4 linked regions of the Homo sapiens genome follow. The main gene of each other region encodes a partner of the protein of the gene in region 4 in a complex. Each region holds a gene or a part of one and is shown on either strand. Other genes may lie near its edges.

The links.
Region 1: METTL3 (region 4) and CBLL1 share a complex: the UniProt entries of both Homo sapiens proteins name them as parts of the WMM complex.
Region 2: METTL3 (region 4) and WTAP share a complex: the UniProt entries of both Homo sapiens proteins name them as parts of the WMM complex.
Region 3: METTL3 (region 4) and RBM15 share a complex: the UniProt entries of both Homo sapiens proteins name them as parts of the WMM complex.

The regions. Positions count from the first base shown.
Region 1 is NC_000007.14:107,746,555-107,754,755, forward strand, and holds part of CBLL1 (E3 ubiquitin-protein ligase Hakai), read left to right. Parts: exon of another isoform or gene 1-942; intron 943-2,325; coding exon 2,326-2,493; intron 2,494-5,990; exon of another isoform or gene 5,991-6,063; intron 6,064-6,856; coding exon 6,857-6,957; intron 6,958-7,340; coding exon 7,341-7,424; intron 7,425-8,201. UniProt on the Homo sapiens protein: E3 ubiquitin-protein ligase that mediates ubiquitination of several tyrosine-phosphorylated Src substrates, including CDH1, CTTN and DOK1. Targets CDH1 for endocytosis and degradation.
Region 2 is NC_000006.12:159,722,835-159,730,977, forward strand, and holds the start of WTAP (pre-mRNA-splicing regulator WTAP), read left to right. Parts: upstream 1-4,671; 5' UTR 4,672-4,869; intron 4,870-8,050; exon of another isoform or gene 8,051-8,131; intron 8,132-8,143. UniProt on the Homo sapiens protein: Associated component of the WMM complex, a complex that mediates N6-methyladenosine (m6A) methylation of RNAs, a modification that plays a role in the efficiency of mRNA splicing and RNA processing.
Region 3 is NC_000001.11:110,341,873-110,347,177, forward strand, and holds the end of RBM15 (RNA-binding protein 15), read left to right. Parts: coding exon 1-396; intron 397-3,666; coding exon 3,667-3,737; 3' UTR 3,738-3,777; intron 3,778-4,435; coding exon of another isoform or gene 4,436-4,482; 3' UTR 4,483-4,805; downstream 4,806-5,305. UniProt on the Homo sapiens protein: RNA-binding protein that acts as a key regulator of N6-methyladenosine (m6A) methylation of RNAs, thereby regulating different processes, such as hematopoietic cell homeostasis, alternative splicing of mRNAs and X chromosome inactivation mediated by Xist RNA.
Region 4 is NC_000014.9:21,500,737-21,508,937, reverse strand, and holds part of METTL3 (N(6)-adenosine-methyltransferase catalytic subunit METTL3), read left to right. Parts: intron 1-5,056; coding exon 5,057-5,274; intron 5,275-5,360; coding exon 5,361-5,765; intron 5,766-7,034; coding exon 7,035-7,210; coding exon of another isoform or gene 7,211-7,229; exon of another isoform or gene 7,230-7,230; intron 7,231-7,808; coding exon 7,809-8,025; intron 8,026-8,201. UniProt on the Homo sapiens protein: The METTL3-METTL14 heterodimer forms a N6-methyltransferase complex that methylates adenosine residues at the N(6) position of some RNAs and regulates various processes such as the circadian clock, differentiation of embryonic and hematopoietic stem cells, cortical neurogenesis, response to DNA damage, differentiation of T-cells and primary miRNA processing.

The sequences.
Region 1 (8,201 bases), on a different chromosome or scaffold from region 4:
TAAATCACAAAGGCTTTGACAAATGAGGAAATGCCACTTAGCTAGATAATTGAAGAATCATGACAGGATAGGCATCTCAAAAGAATAATTGTAATATTAAAGGATTAAGAGGTCCTTGGGGAAACAGATGAAACCCTTGAACATTATGCAAAAATGACCCATTTTATGATCATACCGAAACATTCAAATGTGAAAATGAAGGTGTTCTAATAGAATCTTGCCAGAAAAATTACTCCAAGGGGCTCCCCATTAACACTGGATTTATTCTTTGGTCATTCTAAGAATTAGCACTTCTGTAACTGTATCCCAGATTTTGTAAAAGATCCCAGATTTTGTAAAATATTTATTGGTTCTTTTTATTCAAGATAAAAAATCCCCAATCTTTTTTAAACTATATGATATGGAAGTGTTGTGCCTTTTTAAAGTGAATTTATCTGAAGTGGCCAGTAGTCCTTAGTCACTTTCTATGTAATATCTAAGAAATTTTTGTTGTTAAGGACTTTATAATTTGTTACTGTATTCAAAAGGAAATAGTGCTTTATGCTCTGATTCTTAATTTAAAAACAACAAAAAGCAAAAAAGTCCCAAAGAAACCCAGAATGTTATCATTATTAAATGCTGTACCTCATGAACTTGAATCTGTGAAGCAGAGTGGGAAGGGCCAGCCAGCTCTTGAAAGTGGTAGACTATGCAAGCAACAGTAGAGACCTCAAGTGTTCAGGATGGTGTGAAAAGGACTTGTAATGAAGTGTTGGTATTTTCATTATTCACAAAGGTAAAACGATTAAACCATTTTGATATTTGAATATTTAATATTTGAGGGACAGCATTGAACTGATTATATGTCTACAACGACTTGCTTTTTAGTTCATTGGAATGTCAGGAATACTTTTTGAGCAAGGAAAAAAGTCATTCATATTTCTTTTGGCCAATGCATTGCTTGTAAGTACTTTTACATACATAAGCAACTACAATGAAAACAGATCAAATACATTAATCAGCTTGTGAGTCTATTTAATGAAGTGTTGAAAGCTGATCAAGTTGGGTTAACCCTAACTCAAGATTCTAGCTAACCATGTAATTCCACCCCTCTTTGTTTTAGGATTAGCTGTTATAAGAGTAGTAAGTAGATTAAAATAATCGTTATGGACCCATTTTTAATTTTGTTTGGTATTTTGTTCAGAAAAAGTGCAAATGAATGTGAACTTATTGTGTGTCTGTAATCCTAGTAGCCTTGGAGGCCATTGGTACTAGCTTACTACTTCCAAATTTGGCTTTGCTGAATTTAATGTGGATGGTTTGGCTATCAGTCTTGACTGTAATATTTCCTGCAGGGGCAGTTATACAACCTTGTTCAATAACTTGTCATGTTTAAAACACTACAAATTAAAAAATACGTTATTTGTATTTCCTATTTTAAGCATTTTCCTTCTTTAGTAGGTCAAGTTAAATATTTTCTGTATTATATATTTTCATCTACTTGAAAAAAGGTAACTCTTAAGCTTTAGATGGAGTCAGTTCTATGAAATAATACTCCTGTTACTCATGGGACAAGAATTAATTTATTCTATAGACAATAACAAGCAAAGACTCCAGGGACTAGAAAGTGACACTTGTTTAGACCTAGTTGTAGTATAGGAACTTTGCATCCTCTTAAATTATAATTTTCCATTACAGTGCTGACTAAGAACTCAGTCACATGTTATAGCACAAATACATTATTGCATGTTTTTACTACTAAATGGTATAATGATTTTTACTATATTTCTGAATGATTTTTAGAATAATTATTTTGCGCTTAAGGAATAATCACATTTCTTAACTTCATTTTCAAACGCATTGTTTAATTTTGCCTTCATCAGTATTAGTAAGTTCAGTTTACTAAATTTATTTTCTGCTTTGCATGCTTGATGATCAGACATGGAGACAGGGATGGTTTTCGTTCTTTTTCTCCTTCTTACTCTTTTTCTTTTAAAAAATTCTCTTGTAGTTCAAGACAATGGTTCTTGGGTTCATTAATGGTTTCATGTTTCTGTAAACTTCTCTGGAATTATATGAAAAATTTTATTCACTTTTCTAGGGAGAGGTCCTATAACTTTTATCAATTTCTTAAAGGATTCTGTATCTCAAAAGGGGTTAAAAAGCATTGCCTTAAGTGTTGATCCAAAATAAATAAAATTAGCAGTTAAACTTAATGTAATATTGAAAATCAGAACCCAGATCTTTAACCTTGATAATGTTAGGTATGGTGTTTTAATACCTGTGGCAGAATAATCTTTAAAAAGAAAAACTAAAAGAAATTACAACTTTTTTTTCCTAACACAGACAATGAGTTACAAGGCACTAATAGTTCTGGATCCTTGGGTGGTCTTGATGTTCGCAGACGAATTCCTATAAAGCTCATCTCCAAACAAGCAAACAAAGCGAAACCTGCACCGCGAACTCAAAGAACTATAAACAGGATGCCTGCAAAGGCTCCACCTGGTGATGAAGGTAATTTGTTTAACTAATAGGTCCAACACTCTTTCTGTTTTATCTGATTGCTTCGGACAGTCTGTGTGATCTTATAGCTACCTCTTTTTGTCTTACATATTCTATTCATTCTTCAACCTTCTTGTTTGACTTCTCATTGTAGCACATTGTATTTTTATTTTCCTTTATAAATATTTTTTGATTTGGTTCCTTTTGTTGTTGAAAGCAATACTGCCCATTGTTCAGTAATCTCAACAGTATTGCAGAAAGCATAACATTAAAAGTAAAATCCTTCTATCCAAAGATAATCCCTGTTGACTTTTTTATACAAAAGTATTAATTTTTTATGTGTAGTTGCCATTTTTTCATGTAATATGCATTTGAGATTTTTTTCTTATCAGTACTTACAGATGTACCTCATTAAAAAAATAGGTTTGGGTATTTATAGATATACCATAATTTATTTAACAGTTTTTCCAGTTTTTTCTGTTACAAAAAACATTGCACCAAATATTCTTGGACATACAGTTTAGTATGTATACTTTGTAGAATTTGTACTTTGCACAGATTTGGCCTTTTTTTTTTTTTTAAGAGCAATTTGACAGTACTTGTCAAACTCTAAAATCCACAGTATCTGTCAAGTTTTAAAATATCCAAATTTGTAGTTTTAAAGGCTTTGGAATTAAAAAAATAATAATAAAAAGGTATGTTAGTTTTTACTGCCATACACCAATACTGAGTACTAGAAACCTTTTAAAATTTTTGTTTTGATGTAAATTTATTTTAATTATGAAAGAGTGTATATTTTTTCATAGCATTGACCATTCTTGTTTAGATCCTTTCTTCTGAGTTCTTTGTAAATTAATAGGGTTTTTGTTATATGTTATGTATGTGCGTGTGTGTATATATATTTTTTTGTTTGTTTGTTTGTTTGTTTTTGTTTTTTTGAGACTGAGTCTTACTCTGTTGCCTGGGCTGGAATGCAGTGGTGGGATCATGGCTTGATATTCCAGGCTCAAGTGATCTTTCCACCTCAGTCTCCTGAGGAGCTGGGACTACAGGTGCACCCCACCTGCCTGGCTAATTTTTTATATTTAATTTTTGTAGTCATGGGGTCTTGCTATGTTGCCCAGGCTGGTTTTGAACTCCTGGACTCAACAGTCCTCTTGCCTTAGCCTCCCAAGGTGCTGGGATTACAGGCGTGAGCCACTGTGCCTGGCCTATATTGTATATATTCTTCATTTGTCTTTTGAATTTTGTATACAAAATATTTATTGCAGAGAATCTTTTTTTTTTTGAGACAGAGTCTTGCGCTGTCACCCAGGCTGGAGTGCAGTGGCGGGATCTCGGCTCACTGCAAGCTCTGCCTCCCAGGTTCATGCCATTCTCCTGCCTCAGCCTCCCGAGTAGCTGGGACTACAGGTGCCCGCCACCACGCCCAGCTAATTTTTGTATTTTTAGTGGAGACGGGGTTTCACTGTGTTAGCCAGGATGGTCTCGATCTCCTGACCTCATGATCCGCCCGCATCGGCCTCCCAAAGTGCTGGGATTATAGTTATTGCAGAGAATCTTGAAGATTCTATATAGTCAGATATCCGGTCTTTGCTTTTATGACTTCTGGGTTTTGTGACATTATTTGAAAGGCCTTCCCCTATTTCACCAGTATAAAAGAGTTTTTCCATCTTACCCTTGATTACAGGTTAGCAAACTATGTCTGTGGGCCAAATGTAGCCCTGTTTTTATAAACAATTTTATTGGAACACAGCTATGCTCATTCATTTAAGTATTATCTATGGGGGCTTTCACACTATAATGGTAGAGTTGAGTAATTGTGATTGAGACCATATGGTCCACAAAGCGTAAATATTTACTATTTAGCATTTCACAGAAAAAGTTCACTGATACTGCTTTAGAACATTTATGGTTATTAAGGGGAAAAAAGGTGGGGTCTGGCTTTTTTTTTTTTCCCTCGAAACATTGTCCCAACTCTTTTCCTTGCTGAATAGGGATTTTACTGTTATCATATATATGTTAAAGCAGCAGTCCCTAATCTTTTTGGCACCAGGACTGGTTTCGTGGAAGACAGTTTTTCCACAGGTGGAGAGTGATGGCAGGGTGCGGGGAGTGGTTTCGGGATGCAACTGTTGCATTAGTTAGATTCTTGTAAGGAGCACCAACCTAGATCCCTCTCTTGCACGGTTCACAATAGGGTTTGCGTTCCTATGAGAATCTAATGAGGCTGCTGATCTGACGGGAGGCGGAGGCAGAGGTCAAGTGGTAATGCTCCCTAGCCCTTCCCTCACCTCCTGCTGTGTGGCCGCATTCCTAACAGGCCAAGGGTACTGGTCCAAGGCCTGGGAGTTGGGGACCCCTGTATTAAAAGTATTTTTTTGTATTTCTGGACTTTCTGTTCTATTCCAGCAATTTGTCTGTATTTATTTTGTAGAATCAAACTGCTTTAGTTACAACATATGTTATGGTTTCTTTTATCGTAGGGTTCCTCTGCCATCTAAACAAGTATATTTCAAGTCAAAATGTTAGAAATCGTGTTAGTAATAACCTAGGGCTGCTGTTGCACTACCTCTAATTTAGGGTCACTCCTGCTTTGGCTTTGTTTAAAAAAATAGTTTTTTAAAACAACACGTTAGTGTACAAATAATTCTTTAATAGTTCAAACAATGCAGAAAAGCCAAAATCCTTTTCTCTCCTTTCCCTCTCGGATTTTGGAGTAAAATAAGTTTGTTTTTGATTGTTGTTTTCCTAGGCATCAATCAAAATATATATAGTTTAATGATGGGAGTACAGGTGGAACTACTCTGAAAAATGATAATGTGCTCCTAATTTCCTTGGCTGTTATCTCAATAATTTTCTGGTTTGAAAAATTGAGTTTCTGCCAGGTGTGGTGGCTCACGCCTGTTTTCCCAGCACTTTGGGAGGCTGAGACGGGCGGGTCATGAGGTCAGGAGATTGAGACCATCCTGGCTAACACAGTGAAACCTCGTCTCTACTAAAAATACAAAAAATTAGCTGGGTGTGGTGGCGGGTGCCTGTAGTCCCAGCTACTCGGGAGGCCGAGGCAGGAGAATGGCATGAACCTGGGAGGTGGAGCTTGCAGTGAGCGGAGATTGCGCCACTGCACTCCAACCTGGGCGACAGAGTGAGACTCTGTCTCAAAAAAAAAAAAAAAAAAGAAAAATTAATTGAGTTTCCTTATTTTGAATTTTAGATCACACCAGCTTTTCTAAGGTGTAAATGGGTGATATAGGAGCCTAGGAACACTCAGGTGTAACTTATAAGAGCATCCTGACTTTGGATTATACATTCGTATTGGCAGTAATTAAATAGCAGTACACTGAAGTGTCTATCAGCTTCAAAAACTTCTTGCATCATTGTTTGTGTGTTAATGTGAATGTGTCTCTCTGTGTGTGTGTGTGTGTGTCTGTGTCTGTGTATAGGTGCTGTAATTTAGTCATGTGGGTAAAGTTAAAACTTGTGTGCTTGGCTACTCTGTTTACCAGTTCTAGGGCCAAAAGAGTCGTGAGAAGCCTGGCTCCTTGGAGGGATATATTTGTCTGCTCAGCTTTACTTTAGGTAATTGGATTCTACCTAGAATTCCCATCAGACTGTTGATTGGTTTTCTGTTCTTTTGTAGGAGTTGAGAAGATTGCCATCAACTTTTTAATTAGGCCAGAGAAATTGAGCCCCTTTCATCTTCATATATCTTAAGTTTATTGATATTGATAAATGCATTGTAGGAAAGGATACATGAGAATACGATATGGCTCCTGTTGTTTGGGTAATTAATCAGGGAGTGGTTTTAATTGACAGGATGAAATATGAATATGTTAAAGTGTCTAAATCACTCATTTTAGGGCTAAAGAAGAGGATAACTTGTTTGCTAATAAAATCGATAGAATGCTTTATGTTTTCATTATGCTATTGGCAATACAATCAGTCTCTTAGCATACCATTTTTGTAGCTAGACTAGAATAAATGGTGATCAATATCTTAAAAATTTGTGCAACAAGCATGATCATCAGTAAAGTTTTACATTAGAAATAGTTTCATGAATTGATAAGAGCATTTGAATGGGAGTCAAGAGATCTGAGGTCTGTTCCTGGCTTTGCCACTTATCTTCTATATGTTGAGTTATGAGTCTCCATACAGTAATATTCTCAATAATGAAGTAAAAGAGTTGGACTAGATCACCAAGATCACTTCTAACTGATGTTTTAAAGTAATCTTGATTGTCTTATTCTTAGAAAAGCTTTGAAAGGCATCAGATGAGCTTTTTAGTGAAAAGGTCTATTTTGCCATGTATATGTGCTTCCAAAATGAAATTTGAGATTTGGAAAGTTAATGGGCAATACTTTTTTTTTCTCAGAAGGATTTGATTATAATGAAGAAGAACGGTATGACTGTAAAGGGGGTGAGCTGTTTGCAAATCAGCGAAGATTTCCTGGACACCTTTTTTGGGACTTTCAGGTATAATTAAAAATGAAAAATTGTATTATAACAATAAAATATTTTAAGTATTAAATACTTAAAATGTTTTATTGGAGTAATGCACAGTACATTAAGAATATTATGAACTTATAACTATGATTTTCAGCACATACAAATCATTTGTTAATACTCTATTTTCAAGAATAATTTGAAGTAATTTTCAGTAAAATCAATAACTGTTAACACTAAGAAGAAAAACTAATGGTATCACAACTAATGGTGGGGAATAAATGGAGATTATACCAAGAGGCTTCTATTTCTAATTGTTTTAACAACTTTTATAAAATATTGACCAATTCATTGTGTAGATACAATCTTTAGAATTGTGTAAGAAGGTAATTTTAATTATATCATTTCAACAGATAAACATCTTAGGTGAAAAGGATGATACACCAGTTCATTTCTGTGACAAGTGTGGATTGCCTATTAAAATCTATGGGAGAATGGTAAGTATAATTAAATATTGTTTTTGTAAGTAAGCATTTGCATAGAGGTGGGGTTCTGAAATTTAGATAGGTTTATCATTGTTTAATGACTAAGTTTGCAAAATTTTAAATAAGTATGAAATAACTAAGGGAAGTATTGGAATACTATGAATTTAATATGATTATCTTGACAAATTGTTGAATTCTTATAAAATATTAAATAAAACTGAAAATTAGAATAATTTCTGAAAACTAATTCCTTTGGAGTGTTTGATACCAGTGAATTTACAGTTATTCTAGTTTATTAAGGAAATTTTTGTTTCTTAATAAATAGAACAAAACTGCTTATTTTTGAAGGCCACAATTTTTTACATAAAACTGCATTAATAATATTTATAATTTCTCTTTTTTTCCTGAGGCTCAGAGAGGCTTAATAGTAATTATTATTTCTGAAAATTGAATTATAATCATTAAAAAAATTTTACAATCCTAACTGTAATTTTATAGTAATTTTCACATTTCTTCCCTCCAAAAAAGATAGTTTTGCATTTGCCTTTAGAAAAAAAAAATTGAATTCAATAACATACCTGTGATGGTAGATGGCATGGATTATGCAGTGTTGCTTTGCTGAACATCATAGTAAAGAAATAGTAACAGGCTGTGAATTTAAAAATGTGCTTCTAACATCATTTAATGTATCCTTCTGATTGATTTTTAGATTTTTATTAGTTAATTAACTTGAAACTACCAGAGGAAGATGCTGCTTACGTTAAATATAGGACATACTTGTTATTTTAC
Region 2 (8,143 bases), on a different chromosome or scaffold from region 4:
TCTCTGGTAGCAATCCAGGAAGCTAAATAATAACTTCTATGACAATCAGCTCAAAATGGCCAGGACTTGATTAAAACTTGACAGCTTCCCTACTTTTTGTCCTCACTTCTAGCTTATGCCCATCCAGAGAAAGCCAAATATGCTCCTTTAACCAAGACCATAGGATGCCAACTTGTAGTTAGCTTCCAGCTTCCCCATGCCAACAGCTTCCAATCAGGCATACCTGTGAAACCTTTCCTTTTGTCCACTGTAAAGCTTTCCCACTCCTCTGCATGCCTTTGAACCTCTGCTAAAACATAAGGGATGGTGGCTGACTCCCTTGCTACAGCAAGTTCTCAATCGACTTTGCTTTTCTCATTTGGTTTGCAATAAAATGCATTCTTTACAGTGACACAATTTGATGAATTTTGACAAACGTATACATTCCCACTAACCATGACACAGAACATTTCCATCACCCCCAAAAGTTCTCCCATTTTCCTTTCCAGTCAATTCCTTCTCTCTTCCCCTCCTAACCAACCACTGATCTGCTATCTACCACTATGGATTAGTGTTGTTTGTTCTCCTAACTACAGTTGGCATAGCCTCATTGGTCTAAGCACTTCCTCTGCATTCAGGCACAACGAAATACCTGGCTCATCTTGTACCTTTCCCGTCCCAGAGCTGGAATCAGCCAGTTCTCCAAAGGAGCTCTGGATCTTTTTAGTGGGAAATGGAATTTAGAAACCAAGATCTCAGTGTCAGATGTGCTCACTGTTACTGTAGGGTGCCCATGCCTATACATCCTGGTTCAGCCAGGACTGTTCCAGTTTTAATCTGAAAGTCCAGCATCCAGAGAAAACCCCTCTGTTTGTGGCAAACTAGAACAACTGGTCACCCTAGTGCTTCTAGGCCCTTTCAGTCCACAGAACTAGGACTTTTTTTTGCAGTTGAAACTTTTTTTTCTTTTTGATAGGGTCTGTTGCCCAAGCTGTAGTGCACTGGTGAGATCACAGCTCATTGTAACTTTAAACTCCTGGGCTCATTTGGGCCTCTCGCCTCAGCCTCCCAAGTAGCTAGGACTATAGGCACAGGCCACCACCCCTGGCTATTTTATTATTTTGTATTTTGTAGAGACAAGATCTCACTGTGTTGCCCAGGCTGGTCTTGAACTCCTAAGCCACTTTGGCTTCCCAAAGCACTGGGATTACAGGTGTGTGCCACTGCACCCAGCCCTCCAGTTTAAACTCAATACTACAGACTTTTTTTTTCTGAACTTCTTAAAATTCTTTATATTAGTTTCCACCCCCACCCCCGGATGAATGAACGTCTTAAAAATTGTTTTAAATTTTTTAAAAAATGGAGACAGGGTCTTGCTATGTTGCCCAGGCTGGTCTCAAACTCCTGGACTCTAGTGATCCTCCCGCTTTGGCCTATCAAAGTGCTGGGATTACAGGCATCAGCCACCCGGCCCTTTTCTGAACTTCTTTGATCTTGTGTTTGTATCTCATTCTCTCACACACTGCACATCTTTGTATATAGTAACATTAAAATACTTATGTTATCCTACCATATACAGTACAGAGTTTTAAAACCACAGTAACAATGTTACCATTAATCATAAATCAGTGAAGCTGAAAGCTCCTGTGCACTTTTTTCATCCTTAGAATACACAGTTGACCCTTGAACAACACTGGTTTGGACTGCCAGGGTCCACCTATATGTGGATTTTTTTCACCCCAACACAGATGAAAAATACAGTGGGGCGAGGGACGGTGGCTCACACCTATAATCCCAGCATTTTGGGAGGCTAGGTGGGAGGATCACTTGAGCCCAGGAGTTCAAGACCAGCCTAGGCAACACAGCTCTCTACTGAAAATAGAAAAAAATTAGCTAGATGTGCTGGCACATGCCTGTGGTCCCAGCTACTCGGGAGGCTGAGATGGGAGGATTGCTTGAGCCCAGGAAGTCAAGGCTGTAGTGAGCCATGATCGTACCACTGCACTCCAGCCTGGACGACAGAGTCAGACCCTGTTCTCAAAAAAGAAAAAAAAAAAGAAAAGCAAGAGAAGGGAAGGAAGGGAGGGGGGAAGAGAGGGAGGGAGGGAAGAAGGGAGGGAAGAAGAGAGGGAGAGAAAGAAAAAAAGAAAAGAAAAAGAAAGGAAAGGGAAGGAAGGAAGAAAACAAAACAGAAGTACAGTGGGATGCAAAACACACCTACACAAAGAACCAACTTTCCCTATGCTCAGCTCCGGGACTTTAGTATGCAGATTTCTGTATATGCTCGCAGAAGGTCCTAAATCCAATCTCCTGCATATAAGGAAAGACTACACTATCACAACACAGATACACTACTAGAGTACTGTGTTCAAAAGCTCAGAGGGGCCAGTGGTGGTGGTTCATTCCTGTAATCCCAGCACTTTGGGAGGCCAACCTGCAGGCGGATCACCTGAGGTCAGGAGTTCCAGACCAGCCTGGCCAACATGGTGAAATCCCATCTCTATTAAAAATACAAAAATCAGCAGGGGATGGTGGCGCATGCCTGTAATCCCAGCTATTCAGGAGGCTGAGCTGAGAGAATCGCTTGAACCCAGGAGACAGAGGTTGCAGTGAGCTGAGATTGCACCACTGCACTCCAGCCTGGGCAACACAGTGAGACTGTCTCAAAAAAAAAAAAAAAAACCCAAAGAATAATTATTTTTTCTGTGTATCTTAGTTATATTAGTTAACAGTTAAGTTCATTTGTTTCAATTTGCTTTCAACCTTAGGATTTACTTTGTTTCCTTTTTTATTTACTTTTTTGGCTATGTAAAACTAAAAGTTCAAAGACAGAGAAATCTTGTCTCCACCCCCCACTCTTTATAGGCAACTAAAAATGTTAAGTTTCCAGGATATCCTTCCAATTCCTCCCCGAAAATAAGCATATACACATAAATATTCATATTAAATATAAATATATATTTTTATGTATTTAAGTAAATACATAAAAGCATATATGCTTATTTTTGCTTTTGAATACAGTGAATACTTACTACACTTAAATATTTAAGTGAATACTTAATACAACCTGAGACTCATTCCAAAGCAACACACGATTATTTCCTGAATCTTTTTAATGGTTGCATTGTGTTCTACTGTATGGATGCACCATTCCCAATCAGTTCCCTATTAACGGATATTTGGGTTATCCCTAACTTTTGCTATGACAAATAGCACTGCAATAACCTTGTATACCTATTGTTTCCATGTGTGGAGCTGCACCTTCAGAATAAGGTTAGGGTTAGAAGTATAACTGCAAGGTATAAGAATAAACACAAGTAATTTTGTACTCCGTGGAACTTGAACCATTTTTCCACTCCCACCAGGAAAGGTAATTTCAACGTGTATTTCCATTGTAAGTGAGGTGGAGCGACTTTCTATGTTTAAAGACCATTACGGTATTTTTTCTGAGAATCATCTGTTCATGTCCTTCCCCATTTTCTCCTTTGGCTTTTGCACTTTTTGTTTTCAATTTTTGAGAGCTCTTGTGATACGAGTTGCAAAGATTTTCTCCAGACCGATCTGATTCACTGGAAATATACTACGACCATCTGGAATGTACTTTAATCTTATCCTAATAAATCACCTTACTACAAGACACTCCTTTGGGGATGAACAGGTTTGATAAAGCCGGCTAAGGACAGACCAATCAAAAGAATTACGTGCTCTTCTAGTAAGTGTTTAGAGACTGTTTCACGTTCTCCAGGTAACACCGCCATTACTCGGCGGTCCAGATGGCAGTCTTACTTCAGGGAGTCTACTCCACTTGCAGGACCTCTTTGATTGAGTTCACTAAACCTCACAGGGCCGCCTTCCCCGTGTTCCAGTTAGCAAGGGGCCCTCAACGCCGCGGACACAGCGCAACCTCCGACGCCAGAGAACAATAGCTCCTCGATGCGTCTCCAGAGATGTCAAGGAGGAACGAACCCAGCGGCCAGGAGACTGCGCCTCACGACTGATGAGAGGGAAGGCATCGGTTTCTAAGTTCTCAAAACTTACAGGTGAGCTTCTGCTAAGAGTAAACGCCCGCGGCTCGCCGCCCACGGCCTCTCTCTTGAGGTGGCACCTGGTCCTCCGACACGCGGAAGCATCACGGATGAGCGTCACGAACACAGAGCGGCCAATCACGCGCCGCCTTCGCCCAGATCCCTCCGCACGAGGCAGCCCCGCAGCCGCAGGTGGCCCCGGCGAGTACTTCCACCTTCCCTTCCCGTGATGCCCTGGGGCTGACCTCCGACCTCGCTGGCCCGCCCCTCCCCTCGGCCGCTTCCCTTACTGAGCTTGCTGAGCTCCGGGGCCCGCGGAGCTCGCGCCAGGCTCCTGGGAAAGGACGGGGAGTGTTACCGGGGAGCAGCTGCTCCATTGTGCCTCGAGGCCCCGATCGGGCTAGGCCGACGGCCTCCCTCCCTTCACCTTTCCTCTCCTGGCGGGGTTCGGCGGCGGGCGAGTGACTGCGGCCACGCCTGAAAGGCGACTCTCCTGTGAGTGGGCCAGAAGGCGAACATGGCGGAGCGGGGAGGCTGGCGGGAGGCGGGAGGCGGGAGGCGGGAGGCAGTGGCGCTGGCCTGCGGCGCGTTCGGACCGGCTGTGGGGCGGGGCAGGGCGGAGCGGAGCCGTGCGGCGGGGCGGGGCCGGGCGGCGGGGCCTGGTTTCCTCCCTCAGCGCCATTTTGTGGCAGCGAGACCCACAAATAAAGGGGAGCGCAGGGGTTGCGGCGGGACTAGGAGCGCGGCGGGGCCGGCGGCAGAGCTGTCCGGCTGCGCGGTGGCCCGGGGGGCCCGGGCGGCAGGGCAAGCAGCGCGGCCTCGGCCTATGCGACCGGTGGCGCCGGCGCGGCTTCTGCCTGGAGAGGTAGGCGCGGGCCGGCTGGCGGGAGCGGACGCGGGGGACCTCCGGGGCCTGAGGGCTGATGCGCAGCCGCCCCCGGCGGGTAAGGGGCGGGCAGGGCCCGAAAGGCCACACGGGCCTGGTGCGGCACCGGTCTCTCGTGAGCCGCTCTACCTTCCCGCCTGCGGGGAACACTTCCGCCGCTTCGAGGCCATTTTATCTCTGTCCTCCGTCCCCAAGGCCCGGGTTGAGAGGGGTGCTCTGGCGGCCGGAGAGACCGGCCACTCACGGAGGCCGGAGGATGCCCTCCCCGGGCTGAGCGGCGGCGCTCGTTTTTTCCTCGCCTCGGGGTCGCCCCCTTCACCTCCCTTGGGCCTCTCCTGAGGACCTGGCGGCACTAACGAGTTCAGCAAGGAAAAAAAGAAACATTCGTTCCCTACATTTCATGTCACGCAGTAGGATGTTACTACGTTCTCTTGTAGACTTCCATTTTTAAATGAGTATAAGCATTCTGAGGAAAGAAACTGAATTATTGCAGATTTTTGTGAAATCCAAGTCTTACCTTGGATCCCTGTGAGACAGTTACTAGATTTTTTTTTCACCGTTTTTCATAAGTCTGTGTACACGTAATGGAAAAGCCCGAGTTCTTGTTTTGATAAGAAAGTCACTTGGTTGTTTGATCCCAAAGGATTAGCTTAACATTATCAAGGACTAGCATAACTGTGATTATGTAAAAAAAACAAAACAAAACAAAAAAACTATTATTTAGTCTGGTAGGGAAATACTTCTATGAGTATGTTACAATTGGAAGTTGTATTTGTGCCTATTTTATCTAGTTTTAGTTAATTCCATTGCTTCGGAAGATAAGTGGACGTCATAGATCCATCGCAAGTTCTCGTTTTTTGGATTTTAAAATTTTGACCATTAAGTTTTCTACGATAGATAAACATGTTGTGGACATTTAAAACCGTAATTTAAAACTATGAGCGAAAAATCTTTTCAAGATGGATACATTTTAATTCATTCAAGTAGCATCTGATTAGCCAAGTCGGGGAAAGATTGCAGTCCGCAAAGCTGGCTTGTGATAAGGTTGAGGTTACATTTTAAGGGTTTGGGTAGGTGTGTTTCTTACAGTGCTTTTATATGTTAAGGTATCTTAAGCAGACACATGGTTTAAAAGTTCAGTATTTTTAGTACTTTTTCATTGGCAGAATTTGGACAAGCTACCAGAATTGCTAACTCCTAAAGGATAAAAGTAATAATAATAGTGTGTCCCAGGCACTGCTTATTTTTACATGGCTCTTTTATGTCTAGCTTTTCCAATTCAACGTTGAGTCATGTTTGCTGAAAATATTTTTGTGTATTGTTTGTCAGAAATAAGCTGGTAGAGATGAAACACAATGTGTAAAAAGCCCTGTGATGTGGAGATGAGCATTGTCACAATTTGTACAGTACATTAAAGCGTTCAAGGTCTCTTATGGTCTTGTATGTAGTATTGAATCCCCTTGAATATATTGTTTAGCAGTTTTGATCATTATGTATTTGCTTCTTGCTCCTCAAAATTGTACGTTAGTTAGTAGGTCCTTCAGCAAAAGAAGACTGAAGATAGTATTTTGGTTTTATTCTTGTTTTTAATTTTTTTAGTTGTCTCCAACTTTTCTGCCTCTAAATATTTTGCTTCTTGTAGTTACTAAGCTTAACACAGAAAAACTTTTCAGTATCTCCACAATAGTAAACTTCATTGTGTATTGTGTATAACAAGATGTTCCATCTGACTAAAATATATTGCTGTAAATATTTTCTGCCTTTGAAGATGTAGTTAATAGAATTTAATCTTTTCTAAGTGCACATTGAAGTTGCCTTTTATGTTCATATTATGTTCATATTTTATTTGAAAAATCTATAGCATTTTTATTGTGCTGAAAGCATTAATATTTGCAGCACTTTGTGAGACAGGCAAAATTATCTTTTTGCTGACTTGGAAACTGCAAGAGTTAAAAGACTTGCTTGGAATCACACATGGCAGATAGAGGATAAGGAAAAGATGGCCTTTCAGTTCCTCATCAGTACCTTGCTACTACAGTGTCTGCAGATTGGTGTCTTACATTCAGCTATGATTTGTTCGCCAAGGTACCGTGTCTTCTTACTGAAGTTGTTTTGGCTGGCGCTTGCCTCCGTTCAGAGGGAACTGAGTTACCTAACTTTATGATGCTAAGAGCCAGGAAGGTACTGGGATCTGGGATGCTAGGCACCTAACCAGTCTAGACTGAACTCCATACTAAGCTGTTTTTCTGTGTTAAGGCATCAAGAGTAGATGGTGGTCCTGATTTTCTGAGATATATTATCTCTGAATTATCTACATAAATAACTGAAACTTTTATGTAATTTTAAAACTAGTCAATCATGTTACCACCCTTTTGAGGGGCACCAAATTTGAGACCCTTACCCCCAATTTATTAATTAATAGCTGTTTTAATCACCTAATAGCTGATCACCTAATGACTAACAGTCATTTTCATCCTGGAAAATGGGAACTAACTTTGACTTTGAAAAGTGCTGTTATTAAATGTGTGATTCATAAGAACTGAACATATTTTCTTTATTATTTTCCTTCAGGATTCAACTTTAATTGACTCCAAATGATGTTATGGTCATTCTGTTTTTCTGATACGAGAATAGATTGTTCTGAGAACCTAGAATATTCATTGCCTTTATGAATCTAGAATTGACTTTAAATTTAGGTTATTGTGTTTGTCATTTGCGCTAAAAAAAAAATTGCCCTGGGGAATACCAAACTTCTCGGTACATTCGTGTGGTGTGAAAGTCAAAATTGCCAATTAGGTTCTATTTTGACCAAATAGTTGAATGTTGTAGACAGTTGTAAATTTTGAACCTGTTCTAATTTGCCTTTTGCCAGATGGCGCATTTAACTTTGTGGCATATCATCGACTTTCAAGGAAAGATTTACTTTTCATCAGATTAAAGTTGAGGAAGGATTTTCTTTCTAAATACTGAGGCTCTGAATTTCCCAAGTTGGATACCCCAGACAGCTAGAGTGATCTTAAAAGTGACTCTGAGAGTTGACTTAGGAAGTGTAGACATTTATCCAAAATCTGTATTTACTCCTGACTTACATTACAAATACAGAGTTTTATTTTTAAAGAAAATTTCAATAAAAAGCACCATTTAATTAAAATCTACTCACCATCAAACTTTTTAAAAAGAACATAAGCCAATGTCAGGAGTTGGAGACCAGCCTGGCCAACATAGTGAAACGCTGTCTCTACTAGAAAAAAAA
Region 3 (5,305 bases), on a different chromosome or scaffold from region 4:
GAGGCAAAGTGGCCCAGCTCAAGATCACTCAGCGTCTCCGTTTGGACCAGCCCAAGTTGGATGAAGTAACTCGACGCATCAAAGTAGCAGGGCCCAATGGTTATGCCATTCTTTTGGCTGTGCCTGGAAGTTCTGACAGCCGGTCCTCCTCTTCCTCAGCTGCATCAGACACTGCCACTTCTACTCAGAGGCCACTTAGGAACCTTGTGTCCTATTTAAAGCAAAAGCAGGCAGCCGGGGTGATCAGCCTCCCTGTGGGGGGCAACAAAGACAAGGAAAACACCGGGGTCCTTCATGCCTTCCCACCTTGTGAGTTCTCCCAGCAGTTCCTGGATTCCCCTGCCAAGGCACTGGCCAAATCTGAAGAAGATTACCTGGTCATGATCATTGTCCGTGGTGCGTCCTAAAGTCCATGTGTAACTTGTATTTACTACTTTGACATGGTTCCTGTTTTGTGATGTGTAATGGGATACAGCATCAGATGCAATTTTCTTTTTAGTTGTTAGTTGTAGCATTTTCTTTTTTATATTTTTATAAACGTCTTTAAAATAGAAATCAGGACAGTTTAGCTATTTTTTTGTTTGTTTAGCTATTATTTTAAGTGAAAGGGATGCCCTAAAGGTAGCAGGCAGGCAGACAGATTTGCTTTAATTAGGAGTTCCCACCCTTATGAGTAATTTTTTTTCTCTATTCAGTTGTTTTTTTTTTAATCTTGAGCTTAAAAAATCCTCAGAGTTACAAAACCAAAATTTTGAAAAGTCAGAATTTGGAGAAAGGAGTCCACTGACCATATAAAGAGAGTAATAGCCACCTAAAAATGACTCGATTGGTGTGTAGGTAAATAATTCTTTTACCAGAAATGTGTGTGACTGAAATTTGATCAGGGATCTCAAAGATATGCTGGTAAATTGTATAGCAATGTAATTATTTTAATCAGGTATTTGAGTATTTCTTAAGATACAGTTTATTCCCAGAGAGTTTGCTTTAACATGCATTTTTTAAATCATTTGTTCTAGAGTTCTGTATCCCATATATGCACTTTTGGTTTGTAGCAGTAACTGTTCAGTAAAAATTAAGGACTATGTTACAAACCATATATGTCTTATGCTTACACTAGTATGCAAGAAGTGAGTAGGTGCTTTTAAAATCAGAATTCTTTGGTCAGTTATTGGTGTGTGGTGGTGTTTTTACTGACTTTTTCAGAGAGGTGTAGCAGGTACAGTTCTAATCGTGCATATTTCGAAACTAAGTGTTCTTCATCAAAGATGAGTTTTTGTTTTTGTATCAATTCAAATTTCTGGTTTCAATAATAGAAAGAAGAGTTGTCTGCAGGCTCATAGTCATCTTTTATTTCAGTGGGCATTTAAATCAGCCATATTTGGATTGCAGAATTTCTTAAAAAGTCATCATAAAATGCCTTTGACATGCTCTTTTAAAATTTTGCTTGTCTTTTTATTTTCATATTTAAACAGTAGTGACATTACATTATTGAAAATGTTTTGAACATCTTGGAAATTTTATGTTCAATATTCTCACTGCTGTCCAGCTACGGAATTGAAATGTCAGTGTAGGAAAACCTTTTTTAATTGTTTTATTTTCCCAGACACCCGGAATTAATACAGGATCATTTAACTTAGCCTCACAGTTTTTTTTTTTTCAAAGGTGAGATGATATCAACCTCTGGTTCTCAACAAGGACTTTTGCTGCTTAACAGTAATGGATTTTTTTTTTTTAATCTATCCCCTCTGTCCCACCCCTAATTTGTCAGGTCATTAGTAAGTATATTTTTCTCCCTTGATTTAAGTGCTGAAGACTTCAGCTAAGGCCCTTGATATTTAATTATGATTAGAGACTTTTGGACCTTCTGGATCATGGTCATGTTTCTGTTCTATGAAAGTGACTTAACTTGAAGCCTGGCAGAACCCAACTGTTTTCTTTCTGTTATCAAAGCTGGTAGTTTTGAAATAGCACCAATAATAACCCAGGGAAATGTCATGTAATTTTTATTTTCCATTATGACAGGTGTCTAATGCATGTCAGCACAAAAGTGTCATCACTGCTGTGTCATCCCTCTTGGTTTTCACTATGCATCTATAATTTTTTAAGTTTGCAGGTTTTGTGGGGGTTTTTGTTTGTTTGTTTTTAAACTGGAAAAACTAGCCATTTTGAGAGAAGGAAGGTTCTAGGCTATGAGCATGAAGGTCCTTGTGCCTCTTGGGAAAATACCTGAAATCCTATAATGAAGACTTTTGATGCTTCTTGCTTTCAAAAAGCTGTGGTTGGTTTGGAGTAGACACCTGTTCAGAAACTAATGCAAGTGTGGAGTCTACATACGTGGGCTCATAGTATAATTTGTGGCCAGCTACATTTTTCCAGTTTAAATAAACTCACTAACCATTAATTTTTGAATATCTTTTGTTGAGATAGTTGGACAAATGATTTTGCTCTTTTGGAGAGTGAAGTCCATGACATCTAATTTTACTGTCATCCAAAATGTGTGTTTTATTTCTTTTCTTTTACTTTCTTTTTTTTTGTTTGTTTTTTGTTTTTTGTTAGTGTGACAGCGTACAGAAGAGTACTGTGTTTTTGCTCCATGTTTGTTTGAATCTTTACCTGACATTGCCGCTTTTGTTAGGTCTGGGCAATTTGTGCTTCAGTGTTTTTGAAACAATGGCTTGATACCATTTCTAAATGTATGTATTATAAAAAACTAATTATGTTTAGTTGGTCATTACCTACAGAGTGCCATAGTCCACATGAACCTCATATTTGTACTGCCCATTCTTTTGTGCAGGTTCATAATATCCATAAAGTATCTAGTTAAACCTTAAGAATTCAAATGAAAGCAAAAGTCTAAAACCGGTTCTACTTCTCATTAGCCAGGATTTAATAATCCCAACGTTGAATGTTCTTTGTAACAACCAATTTTTTTCTATCTTTCTTCTTTAATTATTTTAATGTAGTTGATTTTTCTGGAACTCAGTTAAAATGAATGGAAAGAAAACTTCAGGATATCATTTAATGACTATTAAGTATTATTGGTAAAAACGTGAAGATAAGACTTTTAGATCACAGCTTCAAATTTTATGGAAAATTAAGCAAGCAATACCTAGCCAATAGTTCTGCTTAACTTTTTGGTTAAGTATTTTGTTGGGATTCCTATAAATAATTTTTCACACAAAGTTTTAAATTTCTGGTGTACTTTGACTCTCAACTGAGAGTGGATAGAGTTTTTCTTTTGAGGATTACATCTTAAAATGTCCATCGCCTGGCTGGTTATAAGCATTTGTCACCTTTTGAAGGTAAAATATACTCTGGCCCTTCTTGACTCAGTTACAGGTCATTTTAGGTCCAGTAATAAGAGTCAGGTGTTTGGTTATTGCTTTCAGAGTCAGACATTGTTTAGGTTTATTTAAAAACTATTAGCAGGTTTTCACTGACAATGCTTTTTTAAAAATAAAAAATGTAAATCCACTTTTTTAAGGCAGATTGTTCATTATGCATATACAGCTTGAACTATAGTTTGGGTCCATATAGGAACCAATCACCAAAAACTCTGGTAACAGAATTAGGAAATCCTCTTGAGAAGAGGGCCTTAATGACCTTTTATGTGAAAAAAATTTTGGAGAGAATTTCTGGACATTTTTTTTTCTGTCTCTCTCACAGGGTTTGGTTTTCAGATAGGAGTTAGGTATGAGAACAAGAAGAGAGAAAACTTGGCGCTGACCCTGTTATAGTGGTTATAGTGGTGTCCCTAAAGGGAGGAAATGATTTCAGGTAACCACAGTGAAATGTTAAGCTGAATGAAGAGTTTTATATGTATGGTTTAAACAGAGTTGAAAAGTGAGATTCCTGAAGTGTTCTTTGGCTGTTTAACAATTATTTGTATGAGTGTTTTATTAAAATAACGGCTGCTGTCTTTGGTAACATAGATGAGGGTGGATTTTTAAATGGCTTTGTATCGACCCCTTTCTACAATAATGGAGTAGTCTATGTTGCTCCATATAAATTACAGAATGAAAATAGATGGGGCAAAAGTTTGACTAAACTTTACCTTTTTATAGTTTCACTTTTTAAGTTATATTTAGAATATATTGATAGATTATAAATTGATTGTGAAACTTTTTTCTGAATTTTTTCAACATGTTTTACTCAGTTACATGAGTTAAAGGATATTTTCAGTCCTGTTATCTTCAATTGCAGTCTTTAAAAAAACCCACCCTATTGTTCTACTTGTTATATGTCTATTCATACAGTAAATTCATTTCAAGGTTTATGCCAGTGGGTATTATTGGTGCTTTTTGAAGTTGAGGTGAACCATCCAGGAAGGTCTTGTTAATGTTATGTTCATCTATAATGGCATAGGGGAAATATATATATTTTTAATATTGTAAACATTTGTACTGAATAACCTTTTTTTCCCCCCCTCCGCAAGCAAAACTGGTTGAACAGCGGATGAAGATATGGAATTCAAAGCTCTAATGGACCTTTTTGAAGAGAAGTTGTGGCTTATGTGGAGTTTACATGGGCCTCTGATGGAAGAAAGCTAATCTGTTTAGTATTTGTGCATTTTACTAAAATGGCAGCTTAAAGTTGTGTATCTGCTATTGTGATGCCAATGCCGGTGTTTTAAGTGGAAAAAAAATGACCTCTTTGATTTGTGCTGTGTACACAAGATTTCTGGAAAAGTAAAGAAAAACCCTTTTTATGGCTCACACAGCTTAAGAGTAGCTGTCTCTCAAACGTGCGCTCACAGTTGAGCTGCTTTTGTTTTATTCTAAATAAATTGTTTCTTTTGAGGAAAATGTTTTTCTGCCTGGAAGTGAATTGACGGCAAACCTTTGACCCCTTTGTTTGCAGCCGAGGGGGTGCTTGCTGCTGCTCAGATCTTGTATGTCTTGAGCAAGAAGCAGGGAGACCATCAATTTCATTTTGACTATCACGGTGTGTCAATTCTGAAGGATCACTAGTGTTACTGTTGACCCCCTTTGTTTGCAGTGAAGGGGATCATTTGCTTCTCGGTTCTCAACGTGATGAGGAAATGGTGCTGTTTGCTGGCACGCAAGAAGCCGGGGCAGGCACCCTAAGCCTCACCACAGTGCCTGAGTCGGGGGCTTTTGCTGGTTTGAAGAGCTGGAGTTGCTGAAATTTAAGTTTTGATTTATTTTGTTCACCCATCACGTTTGGCCTTAGTTTCATTTTTAATTTGAAGAAAAGTTTGAAATTGCTTTATCTTGCACTTAACATTTGCACCAAATTGCCAAAAGAAGGAGAAATGCTCCGTTTGCTTTTTAAATGTTAATGA
Region 4 (8,201 bases):
CTTGGTTTTAATTGTTCCTCATCATACTTATTTATTTATTTTTGAGATGGAGTTTCGCTCTTGTTGCCCAGGCCAGAGTGCAATGGCGCGATCTTGGCTCACCGCAACCTCCGCCTCCCAGGTTCAAGTGATTCTCCTGCCTCAGCTTCCTGAGTAGCTGGGATTACAGGCATGTGCCACCACTCCTGGCTAATTTTGTATTTTTAGTAGAGACGGGGTTTCTCCATGTTGGTCAGGCTGGTCTCAAACTCCCAACCTCTGCTGATCTGCCCGCCTCAGTTTCCCAAAGTGCTGGGATTACAGGTGTGAGCCACTGTGCCCGGCATCATACTTCTTTATACTTTTCCATTTCTAAATTCATACTCTTTCAATGAATGATTCTAATTGCTCTTGGTCATTTTAAGTTTCATTTCATTTTTCTATGACATTAACTACATTTTGGTATTAACCAAACTTTCTGCTGTATGCAGACCTAACTACTAGAGCCTTGATACTTTGATCCAGGTCCTTGCTAAACATGTTTAATATTTTTGACAATAAGACTGTATTCTCCCTGCATGTACATATCCTTTTTTATTTTTATTTATTTTTTCTTTTTTAGATGTGAATATCTCTTGATTTGTATATTTAGCTAGTAATATAGCTAAGACCCTTTTCTGTGTGTGTGTGTGTGTAAGATAAGAATCTCGTTCTGTTACCCAGGCTGGAATTCAGTGGCGTGAACACAGCTTACTGCAGTCTCGACCTCAGGGCTCAAGTGATCCTCCTGCCTCAGCCTCCTCCTGAGTGGCTAGCACCACAGGTGTACCCTACCATGCCTGCCTACTTTTTAATTTTTATTTCTTTGTAGAAACAGGGCCTTGCCATGTTGCCCAGGCTGGTCTTGGACTCTTGGGCTCAAGCTATCCTCCCACCCTGGCCTCCCAAAGTGCTGGGATTACAGATGTAATCCCAGTCTAGTTAAGACTCTTATAAAAGTATTTTTGGGGTTGTAATTAAATGTATCTTGTCTTCTGACCGAGAGCTTGATCTGACCCATCATTTGGTACTGTGGTAATAGGTAAAGATGAAACATACAAATTAAACCAGAATGTCACTGTTCTTTCTGTGTTATTTTGATTATTTCAAAGAATGTATTTTGTTGAGCTTTAGGATTCTTAGGAAACCCTTGTGAAACACTGTATTGTAAGTTTATGAATCATGTTGTCATGTAAGATATAACTCAAGACTTGATAAAAGTTCAGATTATTCCATTCGTTTCTCACCGGAAATAAAAATTTGCCTACCACATCTGTTGCCCAGGCTGGAATGCAGTGGCGCGATCTCGGCTCACTGCAAGCTCCGACTGCCAGGTTCACGCCATTCTCCTGCCTCAGCCTCCCAAGTAGCTGGGACTAAAGGTGCCCACCACCATGCCTGGCTGATTTTTTTGTATCGTTTTTAGTAGAGACGGGGTTTCACAGTGTTAGCCAGGATGGTCTCGATCTCCTGACCTCGTGATCCGCCCATCTCGGCCTCTCAAATTGCTGGGATTACAGGTGTGAGCCACCGCGCCCGGCCACACCTTGTTTTTTACAGCATTACTGAAATCTGATAATTACCGACTACTGAACTGAGTGTCAAAAGACAAGGATATAAAATGAACTAAAATGTACCCACCACATCGTTAATAGTGGAAAATAATATGGGCAAAATATTGGGAGACCTTTGTTAGATTGGCATTTTTATTATTTATTTATTTATTTATTTATTTTTTGAGACAGAGTTTCGCTCTTGTTGCCCAGGCTGGAGTGCAGTGGTGCCATCTCACCTCACTGCAACCTCTGCCTCCTGGGTTCAAGCAATTCTCCTGCCTCAGCCTCCCGAGTAGTTGTGACTACAGGTGTCCACAGCCTTTGGAAGGCTAAGGCGGGTGGATCACCTGAGGTCAGGAGTTCAAGACCAGCCTGGCCAACATGGTGAAACTCTGTCTCTACTAAAAATATAAAAATTAGCCAGGTGTGGTGGCAGGTGCTTGTTGTATGTACTACAGGCACATACAACCTTGCCTGGCTAATTTTTAGTATTTTTTGGGCAAAACGCCCAACAGGGTTTTGCCATGTTGCTTAGGTTGGTCTTGGACTCCTGAGCTCAAGTGATCCTCCATCCTCAGCCTCCCAAAGTGCTGGGATTACAGGCATAAGCCTCCATGCCTGGCCTCCTTCCTTTTGAAGGATAAATAATATTCCACTGTATGTATATAACACATTTTGTTCATTCATCCATGGGTGGGCGTTTGGGTTACTTCTACCTTTTGGCTATTGTAAATAATGCTGCTATGAACCTGGGTGTATGAATATCTCTTTGAGACCCTGCTTTAATTCTTTTTTGTTTTGTTTTTTCTTGAGACGGAGTCTCGCTCTGTCACCCAGGCTGGAGTGCAGTAGCGCGATCTCGGCTCACTGCAAGCTCCACCTCCTGGGTTCACCCCATTCTCCTGCCTTAGCCTCCTGAGTAGCTGGGACTACAGGTGCCTGCCACCACGTCCGGCTAATTTTTTTGTATTTTTAGTAGAGACGGGGTTTCACCGTGTTAGCCAGGATGGTCTCGATCTCCTGACCTCGTGATCTGCCCGCCTCTGCCTCCCAAAGTGCTAGGATTACAGGTGTGAGCCAACCACGCCCGGCCGAGACCCCGCTTTAATGCTTTTGGGCATATACCCAAAAGTGGAATTGCTAGATCATATGGTAATTCTATTTTTGATTTTTGAGGAAGCGCCATCCTAATGGGTGTTATATATCTCATGTTGGTAAAGTATATTTTTTTAAAAAGAAAAATATTACTTAAAAAAATCTTTATTTTGGCCTTGGCAACAGAGCAAGACTCCGTCTCAAAAAAAAAAACTTTATTTTAATGGAAACAAACTATATTTGGCCAGGTTTAGCACATAGTAAATATGTGAAGTGCTCCAGTATATTTCTTGAGATTGAAGATGTGCATATAGATGTTGACACGTTTAAGGATTCAGCAAATTTGTAATCAGACCATATTAATTTCAGTGGTTCTCTTAATTAAAGGGTGAATCAAGTGTTATGTATTATTTTGCTAAACCGAACACATTATTTTCGTTAGATTAGAAGCAGAATGTCAGTGTAGTTGCAGCAGAGCGGAGGCATTGAGTAAATGTGTTGAATAAATAAATGAATAAATACCTTATGAAGGATTTGGAACCCAGGGATTCTTATCATTTTCTGGACAGTAACCGGTTTTAGGGATGATAAAACTTTTCCCCAAATGTCTGTATACATACAAAACTTTGCACGTGAAAAGTTTAGGGAATTTCACCTGAATAACAATTGTATTAACCAGCAGTTAAGTTTTATCCACCACATTAAACATAAGCTCCCTCCTCCTGATAACCTTAAAAAAGGTATTTTCAGCTCTAATATTCTGAATGTAATGTTGGGGAAAAAAAACCTCCCAGGAGGTGTTATTAATACAAGGATTCATAACCAGAATTACATCACCAGATATTGGAATGAGCAGTATTAAATCAGTCAGATTACCAATGAGAAAAGTCAATACCAACTTGTAAGGACTGAAATATTTATGTTAACATGGTTCTTTTTATAGATTTCTCACTTAAAAATTTTCTCACTCACTTAATTACTCAAAGAACATCTTCAGTTACTAACTGGAGAAACTGAAAATGAAAGAAGAAATGGGTGAGAGTGGAATCCTCCCACCTCAGCCTCCCCAGCAGCTGGGACTACAGGCACAGGCCACCTTGTGTGGCTAATTTTTAAAAAAATTTTCTTTAGAGACACTGGGTTTCACCATGTTCCCCTGGCTGGTCTGGAACTCCTGGGCTCAAGTGATCCTCCCACCTTGGCCTCTCACAGTGCTGGGATTACAGAGATAAGGCACCACACCAAGCCCTGAGTCAGATTTTAATAAATTCAGTTTCCATTAGAGTGGAAAATTTTCAAATTAATGAATTATTTATTTATATATTTTTTGAGACAGAGTCTTGCTCTGTCGCCCAGTCTGGAGTGCAGTGGCATGATGTTGGCTCACTGCAGCCTCTGCCTCGTGGGTTCAAGCAATTCTCCTCCTTCAGCCTCCCCAGTAGCTGGGATTATAACCTTGCATCACCACCCCCAGCTAAATTTTTTTTTTTTTTGTATTTTAGTAGAGATGGGGTTTCACCATGTTGGCCAGGCTGGTCTCGAACTCCTCACCTCAAGTGATCCACCCACCTTGGCCTCCCAGAGTGCTGGGATTACAGGCGTGAGCCCCAGTGCCTTACCAGAATGGAAATATTTAAGTAAACAAAATATTTCTAAATGTAAACTAATGGCCTACTTATTTAGCAATTTCAGTTCAGTTCTTAGGAGTTTAATATTTCATCTATATTTTAATTAACCACAGATATTAGGCTTTCTCAAAGATAACATTTTGTCCTAATTTTAGTTTCTCAAATCGTTATTAAGGTTATGATGGCAACCCAGCTTGTGAAGTAATAGATGATAATAATATAGTCAGGAAATATCATTTGGTAACCAAGGCTTCAGCAAAGTATTAAGATTTTTGTGTTTGTGAGTGTTATAGGTAACACTGTTGGCCCCCAACATTGTCATTTTGTACACTTTGTTGATCAGTGGCCTGAATTCATTAAAATTCACACTACATGCCTCAAAAAGAATATTGGATCCCAGCCTAGGTTGTTGAGTATATTCCTGTCCTTTATTAAAATGTAGGTTGATAGAAAGGTGGTAGGGATATTTAAATCTATCATGCTAATTTACTTTCTTTGTATCACAGCAAGGATAGGGAATTAGGAAAAGATTACTCACTCAATAGAGAAAAGGTAGATAGAAAATCCAGTATTATCTTGACAAAGCAGTGAATGTTTTAGTATGATTGAGGATAGGTAATCTAGTGCTAAAGTTGGTCACAGAATTTCCTGCACAAAATGAAAGATCTGTGTATGGGAATGCTAGAGAATTTGACTTCTCAGAAATATATAGACCAACAGTGGTTGCCTTTTTTCATTTTCACTTCTCTTCATTCTTAGATCTACGGAATCCAGAGGCAGCATTGTCTCCAACCTTCCGTAGTGACAGCCCAGTGCCTACTGCACCCACCTCTGGTGGCCCTAAGCCCAGCACAGCTTCAGCAGTTCCTGAATTAGCTACAGATCCTGAGTTAGAGAAGAAGTTGCTACACCACCTCTCTGATCTGGCCTTAACATTGCCCACTGATGCTGTGTCCATCTGTCTTGCCATCTCCACGGTAATGACCTGACAGAGTTAGGATTTACCACTTATTTTCAGTTCACGGTCAGTGTCTTATTGCCCATACCTCCCCTCGTTCTCTAGCCAGATGCTCCTGCCACTCAAGATGGGGTAGAAAGCCTCCTGCAGAAGTTTGCAGCTCAGGAGTTGATTGAGGTAAAGCGAGGTCTCCTACAAGATGATGCACATCCTACTCTTGTAACCTATGCTGACCATTCCAAGCTCTCTGCCATGATGGGTGCTGTGGCAGAAAAGAAGGGCCCTGGGGAGGTAGCAGGGACTGTCACAGGGCAGAAGCGGCGTGCAGAACAGGACTCGACTACAGTAGCTGCCTTTGCCAGTTCGTTAGTCTCTGGTCTGAACTCTTCAGCATCGGAACCAGCAAAGGAGCCAGCCAAGAAATCAAGGAAACATGCTGCCTCAGATGTTGATCTGGAGATAGAGAGCCTTCTGAACCAACAGTCCACTAAGGAACAACAGAGCAAGAAGGTAGGGGTCATGTGAAAATACTCTCACAATATGCTCTTAATTATAGCTTTGTTTGACAGGGATTTACCCCTAGGGCAAGGAACTGTTTACAGCAGTGGTTCTCAACTGGGGATGATTCCCTACTGCCCAACTCCCAGGGGATCTGGTAATGTCCGGAGACATTTTTATTGTCACACATGGGGGAGTGCTATTGGCATCTAGTGGGGGTAGAGGCCAGGGATGTTGTCAAACATCCTACAGTGCATAGTGGGACAAACCCCCACAACAAACAGTTGTCTGTCCCAAAGTGTCAACAATGCCAATGTCGACAAATTCTTATTTAGATAATCTGTCACTGAATCTGAAAGAATTGGATCAAGAGAAGAGGAATCCAAATATATAGAAATATAGGGAGATGAATGGAGAGGAATACTAGACCAATTATGGAAATTGACTAAATAATGTGAATTGGTTCTGAGTATAAGCATTGGCCTGACATGAGTTCTTATCTGTTTGGTACTTCTAGTGCGTGAGTTTGAACAAGTTAATTAACTTCTCTTGAGCCTTAGTCTTCTCATCTGTAACATGAAGATAATACCAGCGTATCCTGCCTTATAGAATTGAATAGACTCTGAGCTAAAAAGTAAAGTGTTTAGCACTATACTTTTTAGTTCAGCACCCAGTAAATATGTTTTTTGTAGAAGGAATGCCTTCCTGGGGAGGGGATGTTAACATAATGCTTAGCGGTAGGAACCAGGCCTCTTCCATTTTAATTTCATCCCAAATGCATATTTGTGAGGAAGGACTGAACCCCTAACAAATCTCTTATCTGAAGGCTCCAATTTTCCAATATTAAGTTAGCTAATTTAGGTCTAGGCACAATGGCTCATTCCTGTAATCTCAACACTTTGGGAGGCCAAGGCGCGAGGATCACCTGAGGCGAGGAGTTCAAGACCGGCCTGGGCAACATAGACCCTATCCCTATAGAAAGTAAAGTAATTAAAACATTAGCTGGCATGGTGTCACGCACCTATATTCCCAGCTACAATTGAAGGCTGAGCTGGGAGGATCACTTGAGCCTGGGAGTTCAGTGGGAGAAACAGTGAGTTATGATTACACAACTACACTCTGGCCTGGGTGACAGCAAGATCCCATCTCTTAAAAAAAAAAAAAAAAAAAAAGTTGATTTATCTCTTAGAAGACATTAATGTCAAAAAGAATTTGCGGAGTTGGTCTAAGAGCCAATTTGATCTATAAGACATTTTAAGTCCAAGGCTACTTCTGTCACAGGTCAGTCAGGAGATCCTAGAGCTATTAAATACTACAACAGCCAAGGAACAATCCATTGTTGAAAAATTTCGCTCTCGAGGTCGGGCCCAAGTGCAAGAATTCTGTGACTATGGAACCAAGGAGGAGTGCATGAAAGCCAGTGATGCTGATCGACCCTGTCGCAAGCTGCACTTCAGGTCTCTTGGAAGGGAATGAGGTGGGATGGGTTTGTCAGAAGCAGCCATTCCTTTTCAGCATATTCCTTCCAGTCATTGGGGTTCTGTCTGTAATCTTATTTAGTTTATGGTTTGTGTAAGTCCTCCAGACCCTGAAGGTGTACTTTCAGAAGTGCATTGTGTGGGAAGAATACAGGCTGTACTCCCAAATAACTGAGATTTTTTTTTTAAAAGCTCCCTCCCTCTTAGAATAGCAAAGTATGTCTGTCTCTGAGCCACAGTGAAAGTTAAAGTACTCTGAAAGGAGGATAATCTTAGGAGAAAAGGAACCTAAACTCTTAGGTCAGTGTTTTATTCTGTTCTACCCAAGTCTCCTGCACTGCTTGCCTTCCAGTGGTAAAACAGGAAACCAAGTCTTTACTCAGAGAGGAATTACAATTGTTCTGTAGTATGAATTATGGATTTCCATGCTACCTGCCTCCCTTAAAACTCTTGAAGGAAGCTCTAATGATAGAATTAGGGGAGGGTAATAAAATAGACATTTTGAAATCATTTGGAATTTGAACTGTTGGATCTACATCTGGAGCACCATCTTGATTCTCCCTTTTTATTTTCCCAGACGAATTATCAATAAACACACTGATGAGTCTTTAGGTGACTGCTCTTTCCTTAATACATGTTTCCACATGGATACCTGCAAGTATGTTCACTATGAAATTGATGCTTGCATGGATTCTGAGGCCCCTGGCAGCAAAGACCACACGCCAAGCCAGGAGCTTGCTCTTACACAGAGTGTCGGAGGTGATTCCAGTGCAGACCGACTCTTCCCACCTCAGGTACCTGTCTGCTCAGAAAACTCGTCTCAACTTACGGACTTATGTTTGATAGGGCAGCCATACACGTTAAGAAAGCAGAGCATAATTCAGCAATCTTGTCTTGCTTATTGGGAATGGAGGGGGATAGATAAGCTTTTAAGGGAATAGGAAAAATCAAATGGAAAAGAGGGACTCGG